Homo sapiens: one gene and its partner. The protein of the gene in region 1 purifies or fractionates together with the protein of each later gene. This does not show direct contact. Each region holds a gene or a part of one and is shown on either strand. Other genes may lie near its edges. The genes, in order: AGPS and EMC2.

Region 1 (16,736 bases):
CCCACTGAGGTCAACAACAAGAATCTGGTCAGCAACCTGGCCAAATCTCTGATTAGTAATTTCAAACATGCTGGCAAGAACAAATGTTATATGCAATCATATAACAGTTTTCTTAGTGAATGACAAGACGATATCTACCCCTCCGAATCTCACCCAGGAGGCAAAACTCTCTCATCAAAAGTAACTGCAGTTACTGGAATAGTAGCAGTTTTTTTCAATGAGTAAGCGTATTTCAACTACTGAAAGATCCAGAATTAAATATACAAATGCTTAAGAGAACCAAAGACAGATGTTAATGTTTTTAAGAAAACTATACAAAAAATTGATATTTTATATATTTACAAAACTTAAGAGAATCTAGTCTTTAAGAATGACTGACTTGTAACTCAAATTTAAAATGTGTAATTGAGTAATAGAGTTGGACTTATGATTTTAAGCTGAAATCTTATAAGCTCGTAAATAATATGTGAACACTGCAAGGTCACTTTGTTTAAAAATCCAATTTAATTTATTTATAAAAATGATTTAGTACCTGGGAGCATTCTGTTTATTACCTCAAACAATTGATGTACTTAAGAAAAGTAAATATATTAATTCTTAAACACTATTTTAATTACTTTAACCTCTTCCTATGCAGTAATATCTATAAAAACACTAGTTTGATATGCACTTTATATTAAAACAAGTAATTATTCGGACCAAAAGTAACCACCACCTAAATGTTCATCAATAACAGAATGGATAAATTGTGGTATATATCTACCCAATGGAATACTATTCATCGATGAGGATAAACAAAATGTGACTAGATGCAACATGGAGGAATATCACAAACATAATACTCTGAAGGAAAGAAGCCAAACACAAAAAAGTACACACTGTATGATTCCATTTACATGAAGTTCAAACAGGCAAATCTATATGTTAGAAGTCAAGGTAGTGGTTATCCTGGTGGAAGGAGCCACTGGGATGAGCACAAAGAGGGCTTCCTAGAGTACTGGTAATGCTGTTTCTTAATCTAAATACAGATAAAATAGATGTGTTCATTCTGCAAAAGTTAATTATGCTGTAAGTTCTCTCTCTACTGTTTTGGTAGCATGTGTTAGGCTCTACACCTGCAGAGGAGGCCTTCTGTGGTACACTGCCTGTGATGGAGTGTAATTCAGGGTAAATATTAGGTAGTACAGATCTAAGCCACGATCTCCAACCAGCATTATCAGTAAAAAAGCTAATGTTTTTACCTCTCTGTCTGTATCCTGTGTCTTATCTCTCAGTTGATTCTGAGCCCAGATGTTGGGACAAGGATATGACAAAATATCACCCCCAAGACCCAACAAATAAAGAGAACACTAATAGGCAGAGAGCTATTAATACTTTATGCTACAACGGTAGACTCTAGTCATGATCCCTTGATTTGGTTTAGGGTTGAAATTAACATACTAATCGGAATAACAGCAGAAGTTATCTTCTCAATAATAAGGAAATAAAATCAAACGGAGTAATATTTGCTTAGCACTTGCTTTTAAAGTGTTCCATAAAGTATCTCATCTGACTACAACAGCAATCCATTTCTCTGCAGCCTAAAAACAGATCACTTAATTCATTCTCAGGTATTTTTATTAAATGACCACAAGGGTAGATGGCTCTATAGTAACTTCCCAACATAAAAAAGTCTATGTAGAGAAGGTCTGGTCCATCTTAAAATGCAATCTAGAGAAGCATATTAACAAATAACCACAGCGATTAAATCTTCAGTTTCCTGTTCATTCACAGTCCAAAGACAGTTTGCAACTAGGCAGTAAACCCTCCATGACCTATTCTCTTTTCCTCCTTTCTTCTCTGATCTTGGGTCTTCCACATTCTTCCTAATTCCCTTTCATTCCAAACACTGTCTTCTTCCACAAGTCAAATGGCAAAATGCACTCACAAAAGTAAACTGGCTGGTCTACCTTTTTAAACCACCCATTACATTTTCTTATTATGAATTTCATTTTGACAGAATGATGTTTTATAATTTATTAAGTACAACATAAACTAATGCCTTCTTAACTATATGACAAAGTATTTGATCATGATCTATTTAATCACAAAAACTTTGAAACTTAGCATGACAAAGACAGCAACTTGATGAATAGTAAGTAGATATCTCCCCGGGAACATCAGATGTGGTAATCCAGCATAGAGGAAAGAATATGGACTCTGGAGCAAGAACAGAGTTGAAATGCCATCTCTTTCATTTCACAAATGCAAGGCCTTAGATAAATTAACTTCTCTAAGCCTCTAGTTCCTCAACTGTAATGTACATATAGTATCACTCATTTTTCAGAGCTGTTGTGTGAGATTTAAATGACATAATGTACATAAGCTTTAGCATGGTTCCTGTCATATTAGGACTTAGTCAATTAAAACTCCTATTACTACTATCACTAGAATTCCTAGCTAGGAACTCAAAATAGGGTAAATATTTCATTCAACATAACTACCAAAATAAGCTCGAATTTTGCCAAACGATGTTAAGTTTTAAGCCAGGTCACTTGTGCAAATAACCTTTGCTCTGTATCAGCTCTTACAGGCTTCAGGATACCCTCTTGGGAAATATTTACAAGAGGTTAACTCAGCTGTATTCCTTCTGGAAAATATCTACCAAAGCTTCCGGCAGATGTTAAATAATACTTTTTTGTTTTGTTTTGTTTTTTGAGACACAGTCTCGCCCTGTCGTCCAGCCTGGAGTACAATGACGCAATCTCAGCTCACTGCAACCTCTGCCTCCCAGGCTCAAAGCAATCCTCCCGCCTCAGCCTCCCCAGTAGCTGAAACCACAGGCCTGTGCCACCACACCAGGCTAACTTTCTTTGTATTTTTGTAGAGATGGGGTCTCACCATCTTACCCAGGCTGGTCTTGAATTCCTGGGCTCAAGTGATTTGCCTGCCTTGGCCTCCCAAAGTGCTGGGATTATGGGGTGTGAGTCACCATGCCCGACGTTAATATACTGCTTTTTATTAAAATGGCATTTGTAAGTGACATTATAAGCAAGTAGACTAAACAATTAGTGGCGTTCTTAATCATTCTTTTGACCTGAACATTTATAACCTCCGTAAAAACTGCCATTGAGCAGTTCTGACTAATGCAAACCACAATGAGGTTGGAGCCAAAGTTATAACTGGGAAAGAGGTTAGCAGTGTGGAAGAATGAAAGTTAACATGGTATTTTTTCTTCTCTTTTTCGTAAGACCACAAGAGCCTTAAAAAAAAAAAAAACTGAAAAAAATCCAAAACCAAGACGTAAAAGTGTCACATATGTAATTGACATTTACTATGATTTTTAAGGATCTAAAATTGCACTTAGAAGCAAAGTCAAAAGAAAAACTGTACATGGGTAACATGCACTTAAGGAAAAAGGGAGGATCCAAGAGTAAACTGTCACTTCAATACTCTGCTCAGCAACTTCAAATAATGAGAACATATGTTCCGGGATAGAAGTAATTGGAGCCGGCCAGACGTGGTGGCTCATGCCTGTAATCCTAGCACTTTGAGAGTCTGAGGTGGGTGGATCACTAGGTCAGGGGTTCGAGACCAGCCTGGCCAAGATGGTGAAACCCCATCTCTACTAAAAATACAAAACTTAGCTGGGCACAGTGGCAGGCTCTGTAATCCCAGCTACTCCGGAGGCTGAGGCAGGAGAATCGCTTGAACCCGGGAGGCAGGAAGTTGCAGTGAGCTGAGATCGCGCCACTTCACTCTAGCCTGGGAGACAGAGCAAGACTCCATAGCAAAAAAAAAAAAAAGAAAAGAAAAAGAAGTAATTGGTGCCAACTTCATAGGAGACCATGTGATAAGTAAACAGCAGGTTTTGTTTGGTCAGCCCTCTGAAATGTCCACATTCCTCTGGACTGTGTCATCCCTTTTCTATTGTCATTCAGTCTCCAAACTCCTGTGGCATTAATTTAGTTACATAGTTTTAAAGTGTGATTAAACTTTAATGGTGTCACCTAATGAACTTCTAAAACTCTCACACACATCATTTCCTCCCTATTCTCATTGCCATCATCTTAGTTTAATTCTTCATTATTTCTCGCCTATTGTGTTACAACAGCCTCCTCTAACTGATCTCCTCTAACTGATCTATGTCCATCCTTACCGTTCTCCAATCCATTCTTAACACTGTAGCTGGAGTGACTTCTCTCAAACCCAAACCCAATCTGATCATGTCTCTTCCCAGCTTAATTCCTTCAAGGGTTCTCTATCACCAAGCCCCTTCAGCTGCTTCATTTTTCTTTATATTTATCACTACCTGACATACTATATTAGTTGTTTGTTCACTGTCTCCACTCCAGCTAGAATATAAGTTCCATAGGGCAGAGTTTTTGTTCACTGCTATATTTTATAAGCATGAATGAATGCATGAACGAATGGACTGATAACCCACAAGCCAAAGACCTCCATGACCTGCCACTGCCCTCCTTTCATTTTATTCTCACCTCTACCAATACTAAATCACCTAGTTATGTAAATACGATATGCACTTTCATGGCCCCTTGCTTTGTCATATGCTGTTCCCTTTGCCTGGAATATAAACTCTCAAAATACCATCCACATTTTAAAATCTTCTCCAGAAAGCTTCCTCTGACCACCCCCACCCTCCCACCCCCATATAGAGTAAGTCAGTCTTTCCTTTGTGCTACATTTGTACCTGTATCTACAGTGGCTCTAATCAAACTGCACTGTGTCTCTCACTTCCTAGATTGTGAACTCTTTGAGGCTGAAGACTACTTATTCATCTCTTTACCTCCAATGCCTAGGACAGGACCTTCATAAAGCAACTACTCTATAAATGTTGAAACATATGCATGACTATTCTGTAACAGGAATGAAAATATGGCATTTCAAGAAGTCACTACTCCAGGCCATGTGATATAACCAACCATGTGATAAAACAACCATGTGATAAAACAATTACAAGCAATGTTATCATCCAAAGTAATAAAAGGGAAGGAATAATACACAAATCACAAAATTATTCCAAAATAATTGACATATAGGCATACTCACACCTTATTAGATATATACTGTGGTTCCTTCTTCCTCTATCATTTATCTTCCCTTTAGGCTGGATTCTGTAGCTGGCAACTGCAGGCCCAGCTAAGTAGGAAGTAGAAGGGAGACTTGGGTTCCTCATGATTATCTATCAAGTATATCACCCTCTGTGGAAGCTTTTGATGTGTCATCTAATACAAGTTTCTGTGTTCCCTCATATTTTGATGAAAATCTCAAAGTACCAGTACAGGACTAGATTTTACCACTAGTCGTCTAACCCCGAACCAAAGACCAGGGCTTCCCACCAGCTGTAACCTATGCAACAAATGGGTTACAGTCGTGCCTGAACTATCGATGCCTTCAGTCCTTGGAGCAGCCACACAGGGCATCCCTGACCAGTCACCTTCAACCATCATCTTGGTGTGCCTTACAAACGTTACTATTTTTTCTCTGAATGCTGTAAACCAAGCCATTAAATCTAACCATAAGGAAAACCTGCCCTCCTTACTTGGTTCTAAGAGTGTGAATCTACATAAAATGTACAATCACATATATGCATACAAATGAGAACACATAAATGTACATGAAACCATTTAGAAAATTTTAAACCTAATGACAGCTATTAATAATATAACCTCAATTGAAGCCAGGAGACGAGATGAAATCCTTTATTCCTCCCCTCCCCACCACTCAGTAACCAAGTTATGGAAAATTTACCTCCTAGCATTTTCTCAATTAAGTTGCCTACTCCCAATAATATGCCTTAGTTCAGAATCCCAGCATTTCTCCCTGGAATAATAGTCTCCTAGTCTCTCTGCCTTTAGACACTGTGAAAATTGCAGCTACCATTCTTTGAAAGGTTATGTAACAGGCATTGCACTAAACACTTGATCATTTAACTCTATTTTTTTCAATTCTCACAGCAACACTGCAAAACAGGATTACTGTTCCCGTTTTTACAAATGACGGTGACTGAAACTCTCAGAGGTTAAGTGATTTGCCCAAGATCATAGAGCTGTAACGGTGTAGTGGAAATTGAAATCCAGGTCTATGTTCCCAGCCATTATACTGCCAAAATGCTCAACTGTCTTCAATTTGCTCCCAGTGTGACCTTTATCAAAGGTAAATCTAATCATGTATTGCCCCACGTAAAATCCTGTAAACAAGATTCACCTCTCCAGTCTTCGTCCCCTGTCATTCTCACCCTCTCCTACTACACTTGAGTCTCAGCAGTTCCCTAATTTGTCTCTCACTTCTTTACCTGTGAACATACTGTTTGTATGCCAAGAACAATTTCCCCCTTTGGCAAACTATTAGTAATGCAAACATCCAAAATTTACTCAGACAATCTTTACTTTGGAACATCTTTGCACTAACAAACACAAACCCAAAACTGGGTTAAATGACCAGGTGGTATAGTTCCCAGTTAAGTTTCTTATAACGCTGTATTATAATTTTACCTACTAAGCTATTCCTTCCTTAAGAGTAAATACCGTATTTTTAAATTTCTGTATTGCTGGTACAGTGTGTATTTTGTAAAGACTCATGTATGTTGAATTAATTCATCAGAAGCAAGTATAGCTTAGGAACTTGGCCATGAAGTCAATTTGATGTGCTTTCAAATTCTAACCTGTCACACAGCATATCTGCTAAGACTCCAGCAGACTTAATTTATTCATCTGTAAAATGGGAGAAAACCGCACATACCTCATAGCTTGGGAAGAAACAAAGGATTTAGCACACTTTGGCACACTTAAAAGTACACTTTAAACATTAGCTACTTATTTTTTTCACTCTCGGTTTATCCATTTATCCACGGTGACAAAGCCACACGTCAGAAAGTAGCTTCTCCTAATAGCCTTCATCAGAGATTGAGGAGATCGAGACCATCCTGGCTAACACGGTGAAACCCTGTCTCTACTAAAAATACAAAAAAAAAAAAAAAGATTTCTCCAAAAACATCGAAAGTCAAGATCTCTTACAAACATCCCTCATCGGTTAGACTCTTGTCTTTTAGCTTCTGGTTACACAGAGCTCAGTAGCTATACCACCACACCTTAAACCACTAGCTAGTGTTTGCAGTTTATGGCTTCTTACCATTCATCGGTTTCCTCCCTCAAAGTCAATACATCTTGATCCTAAGCAAGTGGAACTTACCCCACAGAAACCAGTCAGCACCTTTTTCCAGGGCACCACCAGTTTCCCCCACAGCAGGCTTTCGCGAATGAGAGAGATTCCTATGATCTATCATCTAGTACAAATTTATATCTCCTCGGAGAAAAATAGAACCTCTGCTACCCATTCCAAGACCTCAGCACCAAAAGTATTAATTCAAGATAAAAAATGAATTCCTGGCACTAAAAGCTCAGGAAAAAGGAATCCTTTAAACCCTTCTCCAACGAGAGTTCTTCAAGCCTGTTACCCTCACATAGTGACCAAAATCCACCATCCCATCCCGCCCCCTTCCTGACAGAATCCAGGGTCTAGTCCACTCTCTCGAAAGAGAGGTGGGTCCCTACTTTCAGGGACCGGGATGCCTTCCGCCCACCCGTGTCACTTCCCTTCCCACCTCGCCTGTGCCCTCCTGCAGCACAGGCCCGGCCTGGTCCCTCGACGCTAACTCCTTCCACATACCGCTACTCACCGCTTCTTTGGGATGGTGCCCGACTCCTGCGCGGCGGGAGTGGCCGTGGGCGCTGCCGTGGCCGCCGACGCGGCTCTCCGCGCTTTGCACTCATTGGTACTCAGAGCCTCCCGGGGCCGGCCCAGCAGATGGCCAGAGAGAACCCGCAGCCTCCGCCCGGCGCGGTCCGGGTCCGGGTCCCGGTCCCGGTCCGCTGCAGACCCGTAGCTCGCGCCCGCGCCCAAGCCAGTCCCACCCGCTGCAGCCGCCGCCTCCGCCATGGCTACCGCCTTGTGCTGCCGCCCGGAACCGCTGGGCGCGGGTGAAAGGTCACTCAGAGCGGCGCCCGGCGCGACCATTCGCTGCGGCGCATCCCGGCAGCCACCGCGGCGACTTGGCGGCGGGTGCCATGCGTCTGGAGCTTCACATTCTCTGCCCCCCACCCACCGCGCCGGCGCTCCCTTGTCACGCCTCGGGAAGCGCGCACCTGCCAAGCAGGTGAGTTCGAGCTGACTCCCGGTTGGCCCAGCCCGGTCCAGCTGGACCGAGAGCCAAACCACGTCCGCCCTCGAGGTGTCCTAGAACCCTGGGTGGTGTCCTCGGGTGTGGCCTGGGGGCTTTCGAGGGCAGATGCCTTGGAGCAGGAGAAATGGGCAGTGCTACTGGACCTGATGGATCCAGCGGCATCCTTTTCCTGAAAGAGATTCTAATGTTCCACCTGTGCTCTTCCTCCCTGCGGGGTCACCAAAGTAACTCAAAGCTGACCATCATTGCCTCTAACCATTAGAGCAAATAGCTCTATCATTTTCTTATTTCTCACCACCTATTTCGTGCCTGGCACTGTGTTTAATGCTAGATCACAAGTAAGTACAGAAACTGAGTTGCAACTTAAGTTCTCATTTCATTCATTACTGGATCCTAACCCCTTCCTAACTTTAATAGAGATAAAGTTTCTTATTGCTACAGACAAAAATTACCCAAGAGCTGTGAAGACATCTCAGTTATTTACAGATTGAATTCATTTCTGGAAGATAGCACGTGAAAAGTGCTCCTCACCTGTTTCAGCCGGTGTCTTGCATAAGAATTAGCTTAGACAAAAACTCACATACACTGGCCATTGTCATTCTCCATCCTGTCACCACTTTCACATCATGCTTTCCTAACAAGAAAAATATTGGCAGAGGAATCTGAAGAACACCACATCCATGGGACTAGAGACTAACAATTGCTCTCTTGGGTGTTGCCAGCTTCTAAAATTGAGATTATGCCTTTAGAGTGAACTTCCAAAGAGGCCCAGACTGGTTAAAAACTCTCAATTAAGGGCTAAGCAAATTGCTGTTGGAGGGCCAGCTCTAGTCTGTGGCCTGTTTTTACACAGCCCTCATGCTAATGGTTTTTGTATTTGAGAAGGGTTGTTAAAAGAAAACAAGAAATTTTTTAAAAGAATATGCAACAGAGACCTTATGTGGTCCCAGAAGCCCCAAAATATGTATTACCTGGCCTTTACAGGAGGTCCGAATGTCTTCTGAAATTTATATACGAAGAGATACCAAACCATTGAAAACAGTCCAAATGTCTAGCAACAGAGAAATGGTTAGTCAATATGTTAAAATACTTTTGCAGCTATTAAAATAATTTAGTACAGTTGTAGAAACAAGAAAGAATTAGGAATTTGTTAAATATAAAAAATGGCCATAACCTAGGCATCTTATACGTATCTATTTAATCAATCTTTGCAGTAACACAATGACACAGTTTTATTATCCTTATTTTATAGATGAAGGCTCAAGGAGAGTAAGAAGCTTTTCTTAAATAGCTATATTTTATCTCAAATATCATATACTTCATGTTATTGTCCTTATTCCACCATTAGAGTTTGGGGCCATTAACATTTTACGTTAAAATTACTTACGTAGGCTTGGGGTTTTTGTTTTTTATTTTATAGATTCTAAAATTGAACTTTCTAAAATAAATTTTCACTTTAATTATAAACTATACTCCTGGTTCTTAAGGATTGAGTTCTGGGAAGAATTTCAGAGATTGCCACCACAGCTATCACGACCTCATTCATGAGGTGCAAGAACATGAAACACATATAGCACTTTCCTAGGTATTTATGACTGAAAAAAGAGAATCTTTAGTTGATCTTGTAAAATTAAATATCAAAGCCTGCAAGCCACTAGTTTCTGGCTTTTGCATACTTTGTTGCCTACCCTCACAACAAAGAAGTTGCACCTGATTGACATTTTCAGTATTCAACTGATGACCAGAAAAGTGGCTATATGCTCCTACATGTTTGATAACAGAAGAAAAATCCTAGCTTCCTTTCCTTTACTTGATTTTGTTGTCAATTAGAGGAATTGTCTCTTATTTTAAAATTTTAAAACCCACTTTGCCTTCCAGTGTCATGTACATAATTCTAATGGTGTTCTTTTTGTCTTGCACAATCTGAAGAAAGTCACACTCATCTCCTCTGACCTGATAAAGCAGTCTCCAAAACAGATAGATGGAGGTGGCTCAATCCAATAATTAATGAGCCAAGAATTATTCCTGTATACTATCCCCTCAGTTCATCTAGGCATTACCTCCATTTCCTCATGTTTTACTTCCTCCTGTATCTTTAGAATCCAATCTCAGATGTCACTGATGAAGTTGTTGCAGAGAAATATGATAACAGCTGTCTAGACCTATCAGTTATTGAATTGAGATGTCCTGTAGCCTTTGATACAGTAGGTCATTTTTTGTTTTTGCAAGAATGTAATCCCGTGATTCTCCATGTGCTTCCTTGAATGGGGTAGAAACTGAGCTCATTTTCCCCTCCCTTTTATGCTTCCCTATAGTCCACCAAAGTGCCACTGTCATCCTGTTCCATCAACCTCAGGGTTATTTTCAGCCTTTTCCTCTTTTGCTTTTTATATTAAGTACATCAACAGTACATTATCCTCTGTGTCTCTTAAATCTATTCTTTCCCTGAGAATTTATCCTCTTGCTTATCATTTATCATATACTGCCTTTATATGTTAATTAACTTTTCATTTACTCATGTCTGTTACTCCCAGTAGGCCATAAACTCCATGAAGACAGAGTTCATATCCCACATAAGAATCTGAGACTTATACTTAATTTATAAGTGACTCGTCACTTTGAATCTGGGGAGAGACACTGAGCCACAGTCCCCATAGGAACTGTTTTCCTCTTTTCGCCCATGTGAAAATGCCTAGCTAATGGAGGTTCCAGTGAGCCGAGACTGTGCCACTGCACTCCATCCTGGGCAACAGAGTGAGACCTTGTCAAAAAAAAAAAAAAAAAAAAAAAATGCAAAGAAAAGGGAAAGAAAGAAGGAAGGAAGGAAGGGAAAATGCCTAGCTAATATTTAATGTAGAAAGTTACCTCATAGAAGAGCACTTTCCAAGATGATGGGAATGTTCTGTATCTGTACTGTCACTGCTAGTTATATGTGACTATGAGCACTTGAAATGTGGCTAGGATAACTGAGAAACTGAATTTTTAATTTTAATTAATTAATTTAAACTTAAATGGCCTTATGTGGATCATGGTGACTATATTTGATAGCACAGTTGTAGAGTTTAAGTTACTGGTGCCTGGAGATATCAACCTTACTTTTCCCATACTACTGTTATAACCCACACTGGGGTATGGAGAAGAAAAATATGCGAGAAGTATTTGTCCCTTGCATACTGACCTAGGGCTGTAAATGTATTTTTGTCAGAAAAAAAAATGCTATAAATGATTAGGTGTGGTCAAAATAATACCATTTCCAGTACATTATGGATTAGATAGGCTTTTACAAGCCATCTTGCAGATCCAACCATCAGAAATAAGTTTATTTCTATGTAATGTGCAAGTCAAAGGTAAGTTTTGGGAATGGTAAGAAAAAGGGTTTCTGTAAGGTTTCCAAGCCTATGCAGTTACCTCCTTTCTGATTCACCACCTCCTTTGTAACACAGGCTCTGTAAAAAAGTTAAGACATTCTAAGAGTTGTTTGACTAATGTAAAATAACTATTTAATGGTTCTGAGAAAAGGCAGACAATGAGGAGGACTTGATTTTTGTGCTAGATCTCCAGATCTTAAGCGATTGTTCGAGCACTATCCAGTCAAGCTCGGAAGGATCTGTTAATTTTTGCCTGACTCCCTGGAGTGCTCAATCTGACACTACTAAAATACTTTAAATGTAAATGTAGTTAACTGCTTCCTTGTCCAAATTAAGTTATAGATATGCTTCTTGCCAACTCTCAGAAGGCAAAAATTTATAAATTTTGCAGATATTAACAGAGTAACAAAAAGCTTTCTTCTGGGTGATGAAAAGCTTAATGTAAACCAAAATTATGTACCAGTAGGAAAACTACTGATTGTATATATTTTAAATATGTGTACAATAATGAAAACATATAGACGGTAAAAGCATTTGTTGAAAGCCTATCATGTACCTAATTCACTACTAGGTGCTATGAGATGCAAAAGTGTTTAAGCCAATGCCTCATTTACATGGTATAATCAGGCTAGTTAGAAGTCAGTCCGTAAGTGGGAAAAAAATTATGTAATACTATTAGTGGGAATAAGGATGAAGGTGACCTTGATGAAGAGTTTCCTACCACCTCTCCATACAAAAGTAGAACCCAAGCAGGATACCCTGAATTCATGCTACCAGAGGAACAGATATTTCATATGAAGCCAAGTCCATCGAGATTCTTGTGATTTCCACAAAAATTAAAACCTCAGTGAATATCACTTTTAGGTGGGCCATCTCAACAAACCTGTCCTTTCTGAGTCCTGGGACACTTGGCTCTTAATTGAGAACAGACCACATGCACAGAAACAAGCAGTGAATGTATGACCTGTAATTTTCAATGGAGTGGATTTATTTGCATTCATGACATCTTCTAACTTGAGGCACAAAAAAAAGTCTAAATAGGATAGATTAACTCCTGGAATCATGCACCAAATTTCTTTATTGCTCTGATTTTCATTACTTGTCTTCTGAGCTTCTGAGTGATCCCTAAATATAGGAATTCTTGGATTTTTATACCCTTTTTTGTGAAATATAACACAGAGAAAAGTGAACCAAAGCATAAATTATCACAAATCAAGCACCTTTAATCTACCATCTAGGTCAGGAAATAGAACATTACAGAATCCAGAAGTCCCCCTTATGCTCTCTCCCAATCACTTTATGCACTCTCCCTGCCACCAAAGGTAACCATTGTCCTAGATGTATGATAAGCACTTCCTTGTTTGTTTTTTATGGTTTTATCAACTAAGCATATATCTTTTACCTGCTCCTGTTTTTTGCATTTATATAAATAGAAGATTATGATATGTTCTTTTGTGTCTGGTTTCTTTCATTCAACATTATCTTTATGAGTTTTAATAACGTTGTAGTTGTGCATTTATTTTATTTGCTGTATAGTATTCTATTAAATCCATATATCAGAGTTTATCTTTTCGACAATTAATAGACATGGACATTCGAAGTGTTTCCAGTTTCATACTACTATGGATAGGCGTTACTATGCACATTGTTGTAGATGTCTCTAGGTGTACAGGCATGTGAATTTCTGTTGAGTATCCATCTAAGAGTGGAATTCCTAGGTCAGAAAGTGTACATATGTTTAACTGTGCTTAACTGTAATAGATAATGAAACACCAATCTATTTTCCAAAGGGATTTTACAAAATTTGCTGCCCTAGCAGTATATGAAAGTTCCCATTGCTCTAATATGTGTTATTGTCAATCTAGTTAGTTTCAGTCACTCTGGTAGATGTGTACTATTATCTTATTGTGGTTTTAATTTGCAGTTCCCTGATTACTAATGAGATCAAGCACCTTTTTATGTGTTTGTTGACTATTTGGATGTCGTTATTTGTGAAACTCCTGTTCAAGGCTCTTATTCATCTTTCAGTTGGTTACCTGTCATCGTCTTATTGATTTGTAAGAATTATTTATATATTTCAGATATGAGCCTTTTTCAGATAGATGTATTGCAAATTTCTAATTTCATTATGTGATTTGCCTTTTTATTTGCCTAATAGTGATATTTGAAGAGCAATAGATCTAACTTTCATTGTGACCAAATTTACCAACCTTTTCCTTTATTTGACATTTTTTGTGTTCTGTTTAAGATATCTTTTTCTGCTTTGAGGTAGTGAAGGTAATTCTCCTGTATTATCTTCTAGAAGCCTTATTTTTATAAGGCTTTTTTGACTTTCATATCTATATCGATTTGCCTTTCATATTTATATCTATAGTTCACCTGGAATTGATTTTGGTGTTTATGGAGTAGAGGTCAAGTTTTTTTTTTTTCCCCCACATTGGTATGGGGGGTTGTCTCAGCACCACTTGTTGAAAAGCTCTTGTTTGACATTGCCACCTCTGTCATAGATCGAGTGTCCATATAAGCACTGATGTATTGCTGGGCTCTCTATTCTGTTCCATTGGTTTATCTATCAACTTTGTATCAGTATCACACTATCTTAACTATTATATATTCTTCTAGATCTTTTACATAGAATTATATCATTTGTGAATAATGACAGTTGATTTCTTCCATTTCAATTGTTATATCTTGTGCTTTTTCTTGCCTTACCCAGCTGGCTAGGACCTCCAGTACAATGTTGAATAGAAGTTTAGATGATGGCAACCTTATAATGTTCCTGATTTCCAAGGGAAATCTCTCCACATTTTGCCATTGTTTGAAGTAGGGTTCTGATGTTTTGCTTTTTTAATAAACCTTTTAGCAGATTAAGGAACTCCACTTTTGATCATAGTTTGCCAACAGTTTTTATCATGAATGGATATTGAATTTTAGCAAATGTTTTTTCTTGCCGGGCATGGTGGCTCACGCTCGTAATCCCAGCACTTTGGGAGGCGGAGGCAGGCAGATAACTTGAGGCCAGGAGTTCAAGACCAGCCTTGCCAATATGGCGAAACCCCATCTCTACTAAAAATACAAAAATTAGCCAGGCTTGGTGGCACACACCTATAATCCCAGCTACTCAGGAGGCTGAGGCAGGAGAATCACTTGAACCCAGGAGGCGGAGGTTGCAGTGAGCTAAGATTGTGCTATTATTGCACTCCAGACTGGGTGACAGAGCAAGACTCTGTCTTAAAAAAAAAAGCATGGGCTGGTGGCAGGGGTGGCTTCTGTATCTGTTGAGATAATCATATGATTTTTCTCTTTTACTCTGTTAGTAAGGTAAATTATAAGGATTGGCCTTCTACTGTTAAGGAAACCTTGTAATCCTGGCATAAACCCAACCTGGTCATGAGATATTGACCTTTTTATATATTACTAAATACAGTATATTAAAATGTTGTTTAGGGATTTTTGTATTTATATTTAAAAGTATATTTATATTTAAAAGTAATTTAAAAGAAATTTTTCTTTCTGTAATATTCATGTCAGGTTTTGCTGACCTCATGAAACAAGCTAATGAGTACTCCTTTGTTTTCTAGTGTCAAGAAGAGTTTGTATAAGATTGATCATTATTTCTTCCTTAAATGTCTGGTAGAATTCACCAAAGAAACAATCTGAACCTAGAGTTTTCTTTATGGGAAGGTTTTTATTCATAGATTAAATAACATAATGCTATTTGGATTTTCTATTTATACTTGTTTGTTGTTTCTTTACTTTTTTTTTTTTTTTTTTTGAGACAAGGTCACTCTGTCGCCGGAGGGCAGTGGCATGATCATAGGTCACTGTAACCTGGAACTCCTGGGTTCAGGCAATCTTCCCACTTCAGCTTCCTGAGTAGCTAGAATTACAGGTGTGTGCTACCATTCTGGCAGTTTTTTTTTTTTAGAGACTATATCTCTATGGGGTATAAATTTCTCTCTAAGCAACACACTTTATTCCTTCAAGTTTTAATAACTGTATTTTCACTATTATTCACTTATAAATAATTCACTTTTGTATTTAAAAAGAATAAGTATTCTTTCTTGTTTGGGAGTATAGAGTTCCATATAATGCCTGTTCAAATTTGCTGATTATATTGTTTAAATCTTTTAAATCAAAGGTATTTTATCTACTTATTCTATTAGTTATTGATAGTATGTTGAAATATTCCACTGTTATAGATTTATTCATTTTTCCTTGTAGGTCTGCTAATTTTTATTTTCTCTATTTTGAAGCTATGTATTAGATATATCAAAATTGTTATATTTCTCTGGCAAACTGAACCTTTTATAATTATCAAGTGTCCCTCTTTGTTTCTAATAATGGTTTTTGTTTTAGAGTTTAACTACACCAGCTTTGTGAGTGTGTTTATAATTCCATCCTATAACTTTTCATCTTTTTGTATCCATATATTTTAGATGTGTCTCTTGTAAATGCATTTAGATGTTTTCTTTTAACCAATCTGAGCATACAATCGTGGGTCATTTAGCCCATTTTAATGTAATTGAATTACTAATATAGTTGGTATAATAGCTAAGAGCAGTGGCTTCAGTGCTACACACACCTAGGTTTGAATATTGGCTCTACCATGGCCAAATATGTTGTCTTGATCCTGGGCTTGGTTCGCAGGAGCATTAAAGGATTAATGAGCAAAAACAGAAATTCTAAGTGCTATTATTGAAGGGGAAGTGAAGCTAGTATAAGGAAGACAGTCTTCCTGGAAAAAATTAATTATTGGTAGAGGGAAGAGAAATAAAATTAAATGGGTAAGGTGAGACCAACCGTGGGAGCATTGAAAACTTAGCAAAAGAGTAAAAACTTTTGCTGGTGGGAGCTTTTAGAAGCTCTTGAGCATGGAATTAGCATGACAAGCCTGAAGAGATCACTACTTTGGAATTTTCTCCCAAGTGGAAGTCAACCTGTTGGGTATACCCGAGAACCTGTTGGCCATTGTAAAAAGTTGTACTGAGAAAGGATGAAGACCTAAACAACTACAGAAAGAAGATTACAGTGTTTGAATGACAGGAAAGCATTGAACTATGGTTAGCTGTCTGTTGCAGTAAAGGGAAGTGAGTTAGCTCAGGAGGTGAAGACGTTTAATGTGAAAGTGGCTGCAGGTAGTTCCATGTTGTGTCACAATGCCATTCACTGTGCTCCTGGATGTC
Region 2 (16,355 bases), on another chromosome or scaffold:
TGCGTAACCAGACAAGTCACTTATGATAAAAAGTAAGTCAAGACGGCATCATATTTCCTGACGGCAACATTTTATTCTGAAACAGAATGAAATAGCTGGGCATGGTGATGCCTGCACCTGAAGTCCCAGCTACTTAGGAGGCTGAGGTAAGAGGATCACATGAAGCCAGGAGTTCATGGCCAGCCTGGGCAATATAGCAAGATCTCGTCTATATTAAAAACAAAACAAAACTGAACAGTATGCTTAAGATACTTAGGTAAAGTATTAACGGGTATATAAAAAGCCAAATTGTCCTTTAAATATAAAGGCTATAGACAAATAAGGCTAAAGACATAAAAAGATGTGTTTTCCCATGAGCAAATTTCTAACGAAAAATAATTTCCTAAAAAATCTGCTAAGGACGAACTTTAGAAAACTAAGATACAAATGGAGAAGTTTCAGTAAAGGATCTGAAGTGTAAGCAGACTGCACAAACTTTGTTATGCAGTTTGATTAGTTTAAGGCTTTCTTCCTTCTTTTCTATTTCTTGAGATACCTATGATTAATAATACACTCACATACCCAATCTGCTTCTGAAATGTGACGTGATATTTATTTATCCTTTCTGAGTTTTTAGAATTACTTTGCGTTTGCCAAATGCAGAACCACTGAGATTTCCATATGGTAAGGCTAATTATGAAATAATAATACTAACAGATTCCTCTTGAGGGGAAAAAAAGGTAATCTTAAAACTACAAATTAATTCAAAACACAACACATTTGATAAAGCCCCAAAGGCATATATAAGTCCAATGCTAGACATACGACTTTGTAGTTTGTAGTAACAAAACTAAGAAATACATTAACTGACCTACATAGCAAAATGATCAATAAATACTAACCTGATAAGCTCTGTTTATTTGACTAGCTGCCCAACTAGCATATTTCATGTTGTCCTTTTTCGTTTTTGCACTTGCTTTTGGATTAGAAGCAATATGACTTGCCGACTAAAAACAAATAAAAACATCAAAAGCAAAATTCCTTTTTTGCTAGTCAAGATAATCAAAAACATAAGGGACATGGTTGCAATGGGATAATAAAGAATTTTTAAAAACTGTATTAAAATAATTTTTAATATAAACATAAAGTTGAATATTAGTGCTTAAAAATGAAAATATATTTTAAAATATAGTATAAATCCAAAATAGTGGAAAGGGAAAAGATATTTTAAATAATACCTAAAATTATTTAATTATGTACCTGTAACAGCTCTTAAAGGTAAAATTCCATATCATTTAAATAAAGAAGCTCTAGAAGAACACTTTATAAACCAAAAGCACTTTACCACTGTAGGATATTACTGGTGTTATTTCTTATTACTGAATTACATAACTTGCTATGTCAGAATCATAGAATTATTGAATATTTATAGAAAAAGGAAACTCAAAAATAATTTAGCCTGACATCCTACATTAATAGGTTAAAGAAATTTAAGTCCAATAAGAGAGATTTAACTTGACCAAAGCAAAATAATGGGTCTTCGAAATAAAGAAGATCCTTATCTCTAATCCATTTCTCTTTTCACTATACCATGAGTTTTCAAACTGTGTTTCAGAGAACTAATTAGTCCCTGCAATTTGATCCACCCTCTCCTTTTTAAAAATGTATTTAAATGAGCGGTTCTTAATCTGGGATCTGTGAAAGAATCCATAAAACCCCAAAATCATATGCTAATTATTAAATGTATATATTACTGTGAAGAGTAAGATATAACTTGATTCCTATTCTTAAATATATTTTACTCTTAAAAGAATATGACCATGTGATTCAAAAAAAGGTTAAGCCTTTGTTTTATGCCAGCCTGTGCTATAGGCTCTTTCACCTATGTCTCCCTCTCTGCCAGTGAAGAATCTATATCCCCAAATCTGATTTTTATACCTCTATGACTTTAATGTTACCTTCTTCTTATGAATTTTAGCAGATGCAGTGGTTACGAGAAAAACTCTGGAGTTAACTTCCTGGGCTGGAAACCCAACTCGATCATTTAGGAGCTCTGTGCCCATCTTTGGGCAAATTAATTAAATCTGTGTCTCAGTTTCACCACCTGAGGATAGTATTGAGAGCACCTACTCAAACAGTTGATGTGCGGATTTATTGATTTAAAATAAAAAACAGAGCTCAGAACAATGCCCAGCACATGAAGTGCCATGTATAAGCTATTATTAATTTGTTGTATATTAGTTTTTAAAATTAGTATTTATTTGATACAGAGATACTTCTACTATAGCGTATTTTCAAGCCATTGCAATTGGCTTTGCTAAAATCCAGGAAAATTTTCTTGAAATTCATTTGAACCACCTTCTAACCATATTTTGCCATTCCTTTTTAAAAATTGTTTCATTTTTGTTTCTTCCTATTTCCATTTCTTCACTCAGTTCCTTTTCACTGAGCTGCAACAAGAAGACACTCATCAAGAAGTCAAAGGAACAGGATAAATAAAATATTAAAGTTTATTTCTCCCAGCGTTTCTTATTGTAGGGAGGTGCTCACTTTATATATATGTTTTAAAGGTCAGCAGATTATTCCTCTATTTCCCACAGCTCTTATTAATTGACTTTTCTAAGCTCAGCATTTGGCATACCTAAACAATAGGTCATTACATACTTCCCACAATTTCCAAACTGTTTTTCTACACCATAAAAAATGTTTTAATTTGATGTATTAGGGATTTGATTTCTAATGTATTTTATTGGCACTGTTTAAAAATACCTCATACAACTATAATTTAGGGAAGAAATACAATAATGTTGGGCATAAACCCAAGAATATCAAAACAAGAAATCATGTTTTCTTCCTATCTGTCACTATTTAATTTTATAAGGGCAGATTTCAATTCTGATATAAAAGATAGTTTACAAAAAAAGAATGTCAAACAGCTAGGCTGTGTTAACATTCAAAAAGAAAACTGGCTCACAAGCTATTGCTCAGAATTAATTACAGAAAAAAACATGCTTATCAATAAAATACAAAAAACAGGAGAGGAGTGATTGAAGGGGATAGTTAAATGGATTTTAAGTGACAGATTTTTAAAAATAACATTAAACATGCACCTCAACTCACCATATAAAGTCCAAACAAAGCTCTCATATTTCTGTTGTTCAGTTTCAATGCCTGTGCAAAATACTTTCTTGAAAGTTCGAGGTTTTCAAGTCCACCTTGGGTATACTTAACCTGTTAAAAATTGCAAAGTGCTGAAAACTGTTTATTTTACTACTTTGAAATATAGCATGGTTTCATCATACCATAGGCATTCAGTAATCGAAACAGATATTCTCTGTAAACAAATACAAGATGTTAAAAGAATTCACCTAAAGGTTTTTAAAGCTAATCTAAAATTTCAAACATAACCTTCCCCAAAAAAGCTATTCTATTCTATGAACATTGAGATGACTGAGTAGTTTCTAAAACAAAAATGCTGCCGCAATAAAAAGCCAGAATAATTTCTATTTCAGCTGCCTCGCAAATGCTTCACCTCACATTGTATTTTCTATTACTGGCATTATAAATGTGGACTTAAATATTGAATTGTCCTTTTATAATCTGCATGGACATTCTTTAATAATGAAGTCCTTCTAGCCTTATAGCATTCAGTTGTACTGCTATTCTTAATAATATGCAAATTAAATAAATACTTATGTCCCAATTGGCTTTAATACAAATTTCCCAGAATATGGATTTAACAATCATAATCACTATAAATGTCTCACAAGCCATTAAGTGGTGACAAATGTGATATAACTTATAATTAGGAAAGAAAATAGTATACAAATATAAAAATACAAGGAATTTCACTGTTTTAAGTATGTCTTAAGTCAGTATTACCACTGCAATGTTAAAAATTTTAAACTTTTATTCCCACAATTCAATGCTCATCAGATGTTTTAAATATTTATATACTTGCTTAACATCAAGGAAATATTCTTAGTTCCATAATAACACCGAATAGTAACCAAAATAAAATTATATGCCATTGTTCTGAAAACACTTACTTCAGCATACTGCTGACAGTATAAGTGGTTGTGTGGATTAGTCATCATTAGTTCCTCTAAACAAAAGGCTGCTTTTGCATAGCTAAAAACACATCAAGAGGAGAAATTAATTTTTAAAGTCACAAATTTTTATCTTAGTTAAACCTTGAAATAATTTAAAAACAACTTTAGTCATGTTAAACAATTTATTCCCAATATAATTTACATAGCTTTATTAATAAAGTATTTGTCATCTGAAATTCATAAATATCAATGACATTAAATTTTATCATGAAATTAATAAACACAGGCTTAAATCTTAAAGCAGCCTGCAAACAATCAATAGATACTACATTTCAAAAACTGGGTCACTCCTACTACATCCCATCACTACTAATAAGAAGGGCTTCAAGACCTTGGATCAAGCTGTATATAAAACAACTTCTGGAAGTTGACTGATCATTTAAAAAAATATTCAAACAGCTAATGTGTAAGGAGAAAATAAACATTTTATTAAATATTCTCTACTCACTAAAAATTCTTCACAGGCATATATTTACCAACATATTCTATTACAAAGATTTCTCTCATTACTTAAGTTCACTGTCAAATACCAAATTATAATGAAGTTATAAATTTCTAAGCCCATGAAAAACAGATCAAGTTGGTTTTGATATATACTGTACTATTATTTAATCTTGTGGTAGAATAAACAAAAATCTTGCTGAAAACCTAAGGAAAGAGAACTGCCAGAAAGAGCTCTGGAAAAACATTTTAAAGCATGTGACTGTAATTCACTAAATATATTTTAAACGTTTAATGCCATGTGACTATCCTCACTATCTACAGGAAATTCTAATGAACACAGGTGTTACAAGATTTCTTCCCAGTGAGGAAGTGATGACACTACCCAACAAAAAGAGGCTACCTAAAGTTATTTTTGGCATTTACCAGTATACAAAGGGATCTACCTTTACACTACTGCCTGATATACTTTTAAAAATTATTTTCCTGTTTCACACATGTATACTAATAATAGCTTTTACTAAATGCTTATTACGTGTCATGCATTGTTCTAAATGTGTTACATGTATTAACTCATTTAATCCTACCAAAACCCTAGGAAGAAGGAAATTATTATCAACATGCTAGAGCTGAGAATACTGAGGCACAGAGATGTAAACTGAATCCCAGGCTGTGCCACTCCAGACAGCCTGTACTCTTCAACCACTACATATGCTGCTTATATGCATTACACATCACATTGAAAAACTGAAGATGTCAATGGTAACATGAAAATGTGTACAGCAGTCACACCCAAAGGGACTGAGGAAAAAAAATACACCCTGCAGATTACCTAATAATTACAGCATTTTAGATTTATGAAGGACCACATATATATATGTATGTGTGTGTGTGTGTGTGTGTGTACTCTCATCCAAGATCATGCAGCTATTTAGCCCTTTCCATTTTTAAATTCAAAACCTAGCATTGGTTCTTGACACATGATAGGTATTTAATAAGACTGAACAAATGATTGAATAAATGTCTAAAACAAATGTGTTATGACTACCTACCTAATATATATTTATCACTCGAAAAGAAAAGGGAAAATTTGTCTCTACCTTAAACACTTTATCAAAAGACAGTTCTCTTCTAAATGTGTTCCTTTAATTATTAATAGTATGATGCCAAAAATTCATATTGAGACTAAGAATAAAAGTTCTTAGACATTTAAATGGGTTGAGCACAACTGTGACACTGGTGCATAAAGCAAGATAAAATGGGCAGGTAGTAGCAGCTCTTAGGGTAAAATGAATACCAAGATATTTTCTCAAAAATCAATTAGCATCACATATGAGAAAAGGACTCCTTCCCCCAATTTTATAAAGTACAGTATCAAACTAATTTTGTGGATAAAATATAGAATTAAATAAAATTAGAGCTAGAAGGAGCTCAACAGATGGTCTAGTCCAGCTTTTCTAGGCCATTGTTAGGCCACGCAGAAAGTGACTATTTCCTCAGTCTTGTCAGGGATAATACATAGCCAGTACTATTCTAGGTGCATAGAGAAGTTAATTCATTACACACAGTGACTCAACAAGACTAAGAATAGAGAAGTAAAAATAATTTGAATCTACTTAAAACAGAATAACAATTGTTATTACAATATTAGAGTCAGTACTAGAACTAAATAAAGTTTTCTTCTCTTCCTTACAAAAGTATATATAACTAAAGGTTACAGTATTTGGTACTGTGTGTTACTTTACCAACATCACAATTTTTCCTTAAAGAATTGTGGTAATTCCGTTGATATGGAATTTTAAAAGGCTGGACTTATGAAAAGGAACTATAATCACAATCATAATTAATGTATAATACTAACTGTTCCTTGCTGTATAGTATCTAGTTTCAATAACAAATGAAGTAAAAAAATTTGTCTTTCATAATGTGAATGTATTTTTGCTTACAAAGGTTGGGTATCCCTTAACCAAAATGCTTGGGACCAGAAATGTTTCAGATTTCAGAAGTTTTCAGATTTTAAAATATCTGCATTCTTACTGGTTGAACATCCCTAACGCAAAAATCCCAAATCCAAAATGCTCCAATGAGCATTTCCTTTGAGCATCATGTTGGCACTCAAAGTTTCAGATTTTGGAGTATTGTGGATTTCAGATTTTCAGGTTATGGATACTTAACCTATAATACATATTGGTAGTGCTGACACAAAAAAATTAACTGTAGTTTTAAAACTTTAGAACAAGTGTCTCAATATGGTCAATGGATGTAACATATATCCCTGGAATAACTAAAAACAAACTATAAATCAGAAACAAACTTATAAAAGTAACTTAAAAATATAAAAAGGTTACATGGCACAATTCTATATCCCTTTTTCTCTCTATAGAAACATTAAATAGGGCTATATGAAAATTATACTATAGATATTTATTTGGAGTTTAAAAATTCCAGAGCTGGGCACAGTGACACACCTGTAGTGCCAGCTACACAAAAGGCTGAGGTGGGAAGAGTACTTTAGCCCAGGAGCTCAAGTCTAGCCTGGGAAATGTTGTAGACTCTGTCTCTTAAAGAAAAAAAATAGTTCTAGATATAGGCTACCAAAGCTGCCTGCGACCTATTATACTTAAAAAAGCTTACAACTGTTCATATGCAGAAAGGAATATCGAATGTTAAATATATCTGACATTTTCGAAACTGCTACGTTTTTGCCACTGTGTCCCCAAGACTGGTGCTAAAACTGATATCCTACGATAATTTAACATTCCATCAAAAAATTCCTGCCTCCTATAATGACTTGCTCAAACATGTCAAATGAATCAAGTGAACTGATTGTAATTTTCACAGTTTCAAAAAAACCTGTAGATATGCATTTCCAGTCACCTAAACATAAATATTCCTTCTAAGTGTTCAATTAGAAAAAAAAAATGGTCATTTTGTAACTAACTAGCTTTAAGACCAAAAAGAGTTTTGTGATACTAGATAAAAGGGTAGGCTGACCATAATTATCATTTTCTCTAAAAAAATATTTTTAGGTGCTCCTACATCTTTGTAAATCTTCATTTTTTGAGATTTCTCAGTTCATTTCTCTTAAGTGTACATTCACCTCTGTTTCAATAAACTCTTTAGATTCCAAACAAAGCAAAACTGAAGGTGGTACCACATGGTGAAAAAAATAAGTAAATTTAATGGTAGGTTAAAAATAAGGTATAACCTAAATTTGATGATGAAATAAATATTAGAAATACATGCAAAAAAATAAAATTGCAAATGAAGTAGGGGGAAAAGGTGATATATTTTTAAGCTATTAAAGGACAGCAGACATGATAATGTTAAAAATTGATGAATCTGATTTTCTAAAAATGTAAAGTTTCTATAATTTTAAGAAGTCAGTATTTAAAAAGCATATAACAAGGATATACTTTTGACAAATGGTTGCTCTCCTTTATAAAAAGAGCTCGTAAAAATGAACTAAAAAGGTAGAACCAATTTCACCTATCAAACTTGTAAAGATTAAAAAAGAATCATAGTATCCAGTGTTGTTAAAGAGGGACTCTAGTAAATGCTGGTGTGCAAGTAAATTGATGTTACCATTCTAGGGAACAATCAGGAACTATTTATCAAAACCACAGAAAATGTACATCTTATTTAATCAAGCAATTTTACTTCAAAGAATTTAACCCAAGGAAACAAAATAAAAATGATCACTACAGCATTATATATAAAAATATAAAACAACCTTTATATCTCCCTAGGAAACTCGTTAAAAATACTAGGGTAAATTAGTAAGATGAAATAATATAAAGCCATTCAAAACACACTGTAGATTGTTACAGTGACAAGAAATTTTTGAACAAAATATAACTAAGGGAAAGTATAAACTACGGAAGATAATTTTATTTTGGGCTTTTATTTTAAAAGATAAGGAAGGACAAAAACCAAACAAACTATAGTTAACTTAGGATGCTGGAATTACATGTAATTTTTGTCTTGGTCTTTATGCTTTACTGTGTTTCTCAAATTTTCTGCATTAGGTATTCCTTTAACTTGAAAAAAAAAATTTCCTTGTTGATTTGAAATGTTTTAAAATGCTTTTAGTCAGAAAATCTTTAGAAAGTACAAAAAATGTTAAATGACTGTCACCTGTTTTAGAAACAAAATAAAATTAATGCTAATTATTTTTACTATACTCTAAAAATTCAATTTCATGTATTTAAATATAAGTATTATATACTGTTTCACATGTGTAAGAAATCATGAGTATGTTTACATATGTGTACATACAAGCATATCATCTATACTGAATGTGATTCAGGAAATAATTTCCTAATCAAAACCAGAATATCTGTTTCAGAGTATAGCAGAGAACTTGAAAAACAGTTCCTAGAATATAGTATACATTCATTAAATTACAGCTATTACTTTTATTTTAGCTCCCACTTTCCTTAGACTTATGCAAATAGACTACCTCAATCCTCTAGATCACATTATATATATAGACCACAGACAATAGACAAATGTCTTCATTCTGTTTCTCATCAGTTGTTTGTAGTATGAGAACAAGGTTAAATATTCATGCACAAGAAAATGCGCATGAGAATCTGATTCTATTCTGTCAAAAAGAAGGAAAAGAAACAATGTCATATACTTCAGATTTAGAAGAACTAAGAAAAAAAATAAAAAACACGCCTCTAGATGGAGGTTAGCATTAATGCTGTAATATTAGAAAACTTGCACTAAGACTCTGGACTAATCCTCTCACACTGGGATTTCCTCCTGTCACTACAGCAATAAAAAAGCTAACAAAAACATTAAACATCCAATAAGCAAGATCCTAGAGCATTCAACATTCTTGATTATTCTCAGTTTTTTACCCAGGCAACAGAATGCTTCTACTTTGGAAGAGTTGATTCTCTTAGTACTAAGGCTAATACATGCATACAATTGACAGAATTTTTAAACAGCAGGGAGTATAATACTCTTTGTATATAAGAACAATCTGAACTCTAAAAATTCACAATTTTGATTTACCAAAAATAAACTTAGCTTAGCAAATGCAGGCCTTTTTATTTCCAAAGAATGCCATCTATATTTGAAAGAAAAACTTATTTCCTAAACATAAACAATTTGGCAAAACACAAATGACCTAGTTAAAGCTATTCACTTATTATGACCAGTGAATTACTGATTTGTTCTTTTTCATTTAATTGTTGATTTGTTCTGTTTCTCATTTCAAATGACATGATTCACACCCTCTCACCAATCCTTTGGAAACCACAGTGCTTTCTGAACTTACAGTGATGAAAACTGCACTCAACAAAATGTTGTGTGTTTAATAACTTACTCATGTTCATTGATGTAAAGTTCTGCAAGTTCATGCCAGGCTTCTTGGTCTCCAACAAATCTGGTGAGAGGAAAAGAAAAAAAAGTAAGTGTGTAGATATTCTGTAAATGAACAGCATGAAAACAAACAGGAAAATCAAATGCAAATTCCATTTTAATTAAAAAAGATTTATCAGAATAACAAAACACAATCCTCTTGTAAAATACTCACTGTTCCAGATACTCATTCAGCTCCCGAATGGCCTCCACATTTTTCCCCTGGGCTTTTCGAATGGCAATCTTACGCTTTCTTGCAGCCTGTGGGTTGACATTAATAAAGGATTAGGCCCTTATGATTCCTTGGGGTTTTGTAAAGAAGGTAATTTGACTGTGCAAATTATTATCTCAATGCCAGAGAAATTCCATTGTAGAACTACTGCTTAGTGGGAGTTTATAAACATACCCCATGACATCCCACTGGGGAATTCAAACATTCCTCTAACAATCACATATGCTTTACTTTTGATGCACACAATGTATGCATCGTTTCATCCAAATAAATAATCATCCAGATTCTGATAATTATTAACCAGCAGGGAATCTTAATCTTTATCCAACTTAAAGCCCTTTACTCTGTCTCATTCATAAGATCTGTATCCTAAGAGGGGGAGGAACAGTGGAGATTAGGGGAAAAAAAATCTCACCATGGCATGGCCTTTGAATATCATTATATAAATATGTCTTCTGACAACTTTTTCACAATTTTAAGAGAAAATCTACCTATGAGTCTTTCACAAGAATAATACAGTCCTGAAATAAATATTGTATGATAAGCAAAACAATTAGAAGCTGTATTCTAAAGTTTTTAAAATGATAAACATAAAAATCAATGCCATTTATTGTGCATTCATCAAATATGTACCAGACTTCTACTGTTTGCCAATATTGTGCTACACAATGAAAATATAAAGATAAAAAAGAAATGATAATTCCTTGCAGAAGCTCATTCTCATGACAAAAACGTATCAAATAAAAAAGTTAATGCAGTAAGAGCAATGACAGGGATATCTAGGGTGTTATGAAAATAAGGAAGAGATTCTGACACATGCTGTGTCAGAGTGGACGAACTGGAAAGACAGAAAGCAAAGACGGTCCCACATATGATACGTGTACTGAAACAAAGAGTAAGTAGACATTAAAAAACAAAACAGGAAGTTATTTATGGAAACTGCATAGTGGGAAGAACACATGAGCAAAGGCCTAGGAGAAAGCAGTACTGGCTGAAGTAAACAGTCAGGGACTGGAGCATACTGTATAAATTATTAAATTTACGTCCTCTCTATTTATGTTTGCTTCAAATACAGAAGGATAAACAATAAACCATACTATAACTGAGGCCAAGCTAAACTTATTAATTATGAATAAAATTTCTTATTGTTGATATAATATTCCACAAGATGCAGACAGAAGTAAAATGGATGTGGTCTCTTTACAGTATCAAGAGCTACTCATTACGGGGTGGTAAGAGAGTGATTTGGCTCTGAAGAAATGAAAGTGAAAGTTTAGAGAAATCAAGAGACTAATAAATAAGGGTCAGAGCAATGTTTATAATATTTTGGGTAATTAAAAAATGATGTTTTAATAATATATATCCTTAAGCATATCCTGAGAGTAAAAAAAATAAAAAATAAAAAAAGAATCTATATCCTTAATTAATCAGGTCATGGCAAAGGCCTTTAGCACAATGCCTGTCACATAGTAGGCACAAGCAAATATTTTTAAAATAAGTTTACTAAGTAAAACAAAAATGTGCCACAATAAATGCAAAGTTTTAAAAGTCTCAAGAACTCAGAAGAAAAGTAAAAGTAAAGCTCTGAAAGTAACTCAAACCCTAAAGCCATTAAGAATTTTAGACTTAAAATGGGAGCATTGTCCCTAGTCCTCCAAATAGATGAGGGATAAATTAACATATAATCAGGAAACTTTCGGCCATTTAATATCTGATTTCACCAAAATCTGAAACATAATTTAATCTTTCATTTTTCATGACATTACTTCTTCCATAGACAATATACAGAGCATAATGTCTGTTTTGAAATCCAAAAGACAAGAAACTGAATCCCAACTCTTATCACTTACTAGTTTTAACCTCTACAAACCTCAGTAATACCATCTATCTTCAAGCATCAATATAAAGCAACTAACACAGCATATAATAATATTAAATAAATGTTATCTTCCTTTCTTTAACATTTGGTTCTAGACTTAATGTTTACGTGTTAAACCTTGCCACAAAATTCTAACTAAGCAATCTTTAAAGGACTGGCACAGACTTGCTTTATTTGATATTTATATCTTGTCCCAATCCTTACAGGATTTGCAACAGCAGAGATGAGATACTGTAAGCAGTGAAAACTTGTTGAAAACAGTTGGATTCACCTGGGAGCAGTGGTGCATGCCTGTAATCTCAGCACTTTGGGAGGCTGAGGTGGGAAGATCACTTGAGCCCAGGAGTGAGAGACCAGCCTGGGCAACATAGTGAGACCCTGTCTCTACAAAAATAAAAATAAATAGACATTTTTAAAAAAGAAAATATTGCATACAAATGCCACAAATCAAACAAAAAAATTAGCTGAGCGTGGTGGTGTGCACCTGTAATCCCAACTACTTGGGAGGCTGAGGCAGGAGAATCAACTGAACCCGGGAGGTGGAGGTTGCAGTGAGCTGAGACTGCGCCACTGCACTCCAGCCTGGGCGACAGAGCGAGACTCGGTCTCAAAAAAAAAAAGCCACTTAAAGTCTTAAAGTTTTGCCACATAATTCAAAGCATATCTAAAATTTTAAACAATATACAAGGTATCATACATAAAATAACCAATTATAATAACAAAAACACTGGTTCAAAAAACTAAGATAAAAATAGAAACGCACATCTTAGTTTCCACGCATTCATACCAAACAGTACTGGACACTGAAGGAAGTATCTACTGCAGATCGGTAGCTATCTGCAGAATAAATGAATACATCACAAATTTTACAATTGGAAAGAACTGAGGAGCAGGCAGTGATAATTACATCTCTTCATTTTACATAGACAAAAAACAAAGCCCAGACTTACATTGCAAATCCTGGGACTCCTGAATCTGTTCATGTCTCTTTTTTGCCATAGTCTCTTGCTCTCTGGACACTTAATACTCAGCTGTCCAACTCCTTATTCATATAATGTCTAACTGTGAATAAAGAGTCCAGCAGCTTATCTCCCAAAAGCCACACAAAACCCTAGGTTTTGAATGATTATCAAGCAACCAGAATGAGGTTCAACAAGGCTTCTTGTGGCTTCTGGGTCTCATTTAGGGCACACAAAAAAGGCTTGTAAAAAAGACCAATTTTGGCCAGGTGCAGTGGTTCATGCCTGTAATCCCAACACTTTGGAAGGCCAAAGCGGGAGGATCATCTGAACCCAGGAGTTTCAGAACAACCTGGACAACACAGCAAAATGTTATCTCTACGAAAAATTTTAAAAGATTACTTGGGTGTGGTGGTACACGCCTGTAGTACTAGCTAATCAGGAAGCTGAGGTGGGAGATCGCTTGAGCCCAGGAGTCAGAGGTTACAGTGAGCTATAATTGCCTCACTGCAATCCAGCCTGGGCAACAGAGCGAGATCCTGTCTCAAAAAAAAAAAAAAAAAAAAAAAAAAAATTCTATCATAGCTTCCTTAGCATAATATTCTATAAAATAAAAATTATACTTAGATTTTTAAAAATAAAAACAAGTTATTAGTCTTCACATACTCTTCAACAGCAGCAAGTACAGTCTCGTTAACTGACTAAATTTAAATAATAAAATTTCTGTAGGGGTAACAGCTGGTTGTCACGTGTATTAACTACCTACTCTCAATCCCATTTACTACCATTGCTTCTTTCCTCATGATAAAGAGCCTTAATTTCTGAAATCAAAGTACCTATCCAGAATTTCTTACTAACTGTAAGATCTTGGGCAAGTCACTTAACTTCTCTATGACCTTGTATGCCTATAGAATAAAGACAATATCTGAAAGGATTATGATGACAATTAATGGGATAATATATGTAAAGTGTTTAGCTCAGTGATGGTCCATAGTAAATATCTGATAAACATTTCCTTTCTTCATTATCACATCATCATCATTTTCTTCAATTCTATCACTCCCTTTCACCATTTTCCTCATATTTATACTCTGTTCTGTAGAAAGCTGCAGCTTTTTCTCAGTTGTAAAGTAGAAATCTGGATGACCATATAAGTTGTTCTTTTAACTGAACATGCTTCACTTAAATGTTTTTTAAAAATTAACAAAATCACAGCTCAATAAACAAATTATATCATCCCTTAATAAATGCTAATAATTACATTTTTTGACCTCACAAAGTTTAGAAGATTTTTAGCCAATATCAATTCATATAATTTGTCTGCAGCCTTAATCGATGTTCTGAATAAACAATCTGGAGGCATTAAGAAATGCAACAATAGTTCTGAAGAACCCATGTATGATAGTGAAAAACACGCTACTAAAAGAATACCACGAACCACAAACAATTTACTCCATTATTCAAAAGTAAATCAACTGGCCAACAACATAGATCCTATTCTATTTTCTTCAAAGAGCATCGAATACATAAGGTTCAATCCCTGGCTTCAGAGAATTCACATTCTTTTAAGTGACATGTGTTAAATATAAATAAAATTGAGAAAGAACAACTAAAAAGTACAGTATTGTTTAAACTTTGGAGTGAGCATAAAGGTTATTGTGATGTTTACTAAAACAATCAAAGGGAAGGTGGCTACAGGACAGCTAGACCCTGAATGAAGACTAGAATTGGAAGAGTCATGCTCCTGTAAGATTTTCCCAACTAAAGATATATATACACTAGTGCCAAACAATAAACGGAAACCTATATAATCTGTTTCAAACTTTTAAAGACCATGAATAAATCTTCATCCAACTGGCTACATGCCTTCTATAATATTACTCAGAATAGGGCTAGCTAGCAATTTTTTCTGAAAGACATACATTTTTTTATTTTAAATAGGCTACCTGGGGAAGAGATACTACCTAGAAAAGGATTAAAGGATTAAGGCCTACCGGCAAAATACAATCTATAACCTCCCCCCTGCCTCACTCCAGACTCAGGGACCCAGAAGGAACTGGACAGTTGACCAGCAAAAGGAAAGGAGAATCCAGGTTCCCTGCCCCCAAGGTTTATACCTAGAAGCCTGGAAAATGCGGCATTTTAAAAGCATCTTCTGGAGCAAGATACCCTCTCAAGATAATTGGTCTTACACATTTACCGTTTACGGAACACGTCTGACTGTGCACTCGGGTGTATTCAGCAGCATTGTTGCCTGCAGTTCCCTGTGTTCACCAGAGATGCTGAGCTCAAAGTGGAGGTTTTACTCTACTCATCACTGCAATCTGCACATTGCTCCACAGTCACACAGAGGCCTGTGTTCTGTTTCCTGTAAATGGAAACATGTTCTGAGCCTATCTGCCCCCTGTGGCTGCACCTGGTCCTCCGTACCAACCCCTGGGGGTATCCACAACCACTTGGGACAGAAGAAGGTGGAATTTCAAACAGGAGCTTGAATGGATCTTCAATGACAGACTTGGACTAGCTGTGGCCCAGACATCATCCCCACCCAGAATTGCCAGGAGGAGGCTTTGCTGGCACTGGAGGTAGCTCAGGGCCTGCCTGCCTCCCTCCACTGAGTCCAATGGGCACAAGCAGGCTGGCGTATGGCCAGAGTTGGCCAGAGTGTGTCAAAGCCCCTCCGATGCCTTTCCTTTACCTTTTTTAAAGAATCTCAAATAACTCATTGAAATGACTCAAAGGTGAAAAAGTTTTACCAAAAGGAACCCTTTTTCAGTTAACTACTAATCAAATGGATGTATTCTGACCCTCTCAAGTTTCTTTCCCCAGTTACAGTGGGGGAACTGGCTGAGTGTTAACTGTGGGATTCACTGCAGCATCTTACCCTCAAGGCGTGAGAAGATGAAAAAGATGAAAATGCAACCTGCAGAGCTGGGCTTAATTCCCACGTCACAGTCTGGCCCCTGCTACAGGAGGCTACCCTTCTCAGAGAGAGATTTTATAAGGAATTGAAGGAATAGTTAGGGGGCCAGGGAAATGTGAGTGACACTGGTGTTCCAGGTGAATGAGGGGTTAGTGGAGGGTTTGGTGCTACAGCCAGTCAGGATATTTGCAAATCCAAACACATTCCTGTGTGAGGCATGTTACCATTTACCAGTTTTTGTGAATATGTGTATTTTAAGCAATAAGATTTAGCTGGTCAGACTTTTCTAGGCAGTCTCAGTGGTGCATTTCCTGTGTTGTGACTGTTCTGAAGATAGAGTGGCTCTAACCACTGTGAGAAGCCTGAATAAAAATCGACCCCCACCCTCCCCTCACCGAAAAAAACCATCTTTACCCTTGGCACAGAGGAAATTACATCTAATTCATAAATAAAACTT

The links.
Region 2: the proteins of AGPS (region 1) and EMC2 purify together in Homo sapiens (affinity purification with mass spectrometry; 2 studies listed by BioGRID and IntAct, with this or other methods). This does not show direct contact.

The regions. Positions count from the first base shown.
Region 1 is NC_000002.12:177,383,992-177,400,727, reverse strand, and holds the start of AGPS (alkyldihydroxyacetonephosphate synthase, peroxisomal precursor), read right to left. Parts: upstream 7,956-16,736; 5' UTR 7,939-7,955; coding exon 7,679-7,938; intron 7,674-7,678; exon of another isoform or gene 7,604-7,673; intron 5,155-7,603; exon of another isoform or gene 5,050-5,154; intron 1-5,049. UniProt on the Homo sapiens protein: Catalyzes the exchange of the acyl chain in acyl-dihydroxyacetonephosphate (acyl-DHAP) for a long chain fatty alcohol, yielding the first ether linked intermediate, i.e. alkyl-dihydroxyacetonephosphate (alkyl-DHAP), in the pathway of ether lipid biosynthesis.
Region 2 is NC_000008.11:108,463,637-108,479,991, reverse strand, and holds part of EMC2 (ER membrane protein complex subunit 2), read right to left. Parts: intron 10,167-16,355; coding exon 10,081-10,166; intron 9,931-10,080; coding exon 9,871-9,930; intron 9,139-9,870; coding exon of another isoform or gene 9,009-9,138; exon of another isoform or gene 8,829-9,008; intron 4,111-8,828; coding exon 4,029-4,110; intron 3,211-4,028; coding exon 3,100-3,210; intron 987-3,099; coding exon 882-986; intron 1-881. UniProt on the Homo sapiens protein: Part of the endoplasmic reticulum membrane protein complex (EMC) that enables the energy-independent insertion into endoplasmic reticulum membranes of newly synthesized membrane proteins.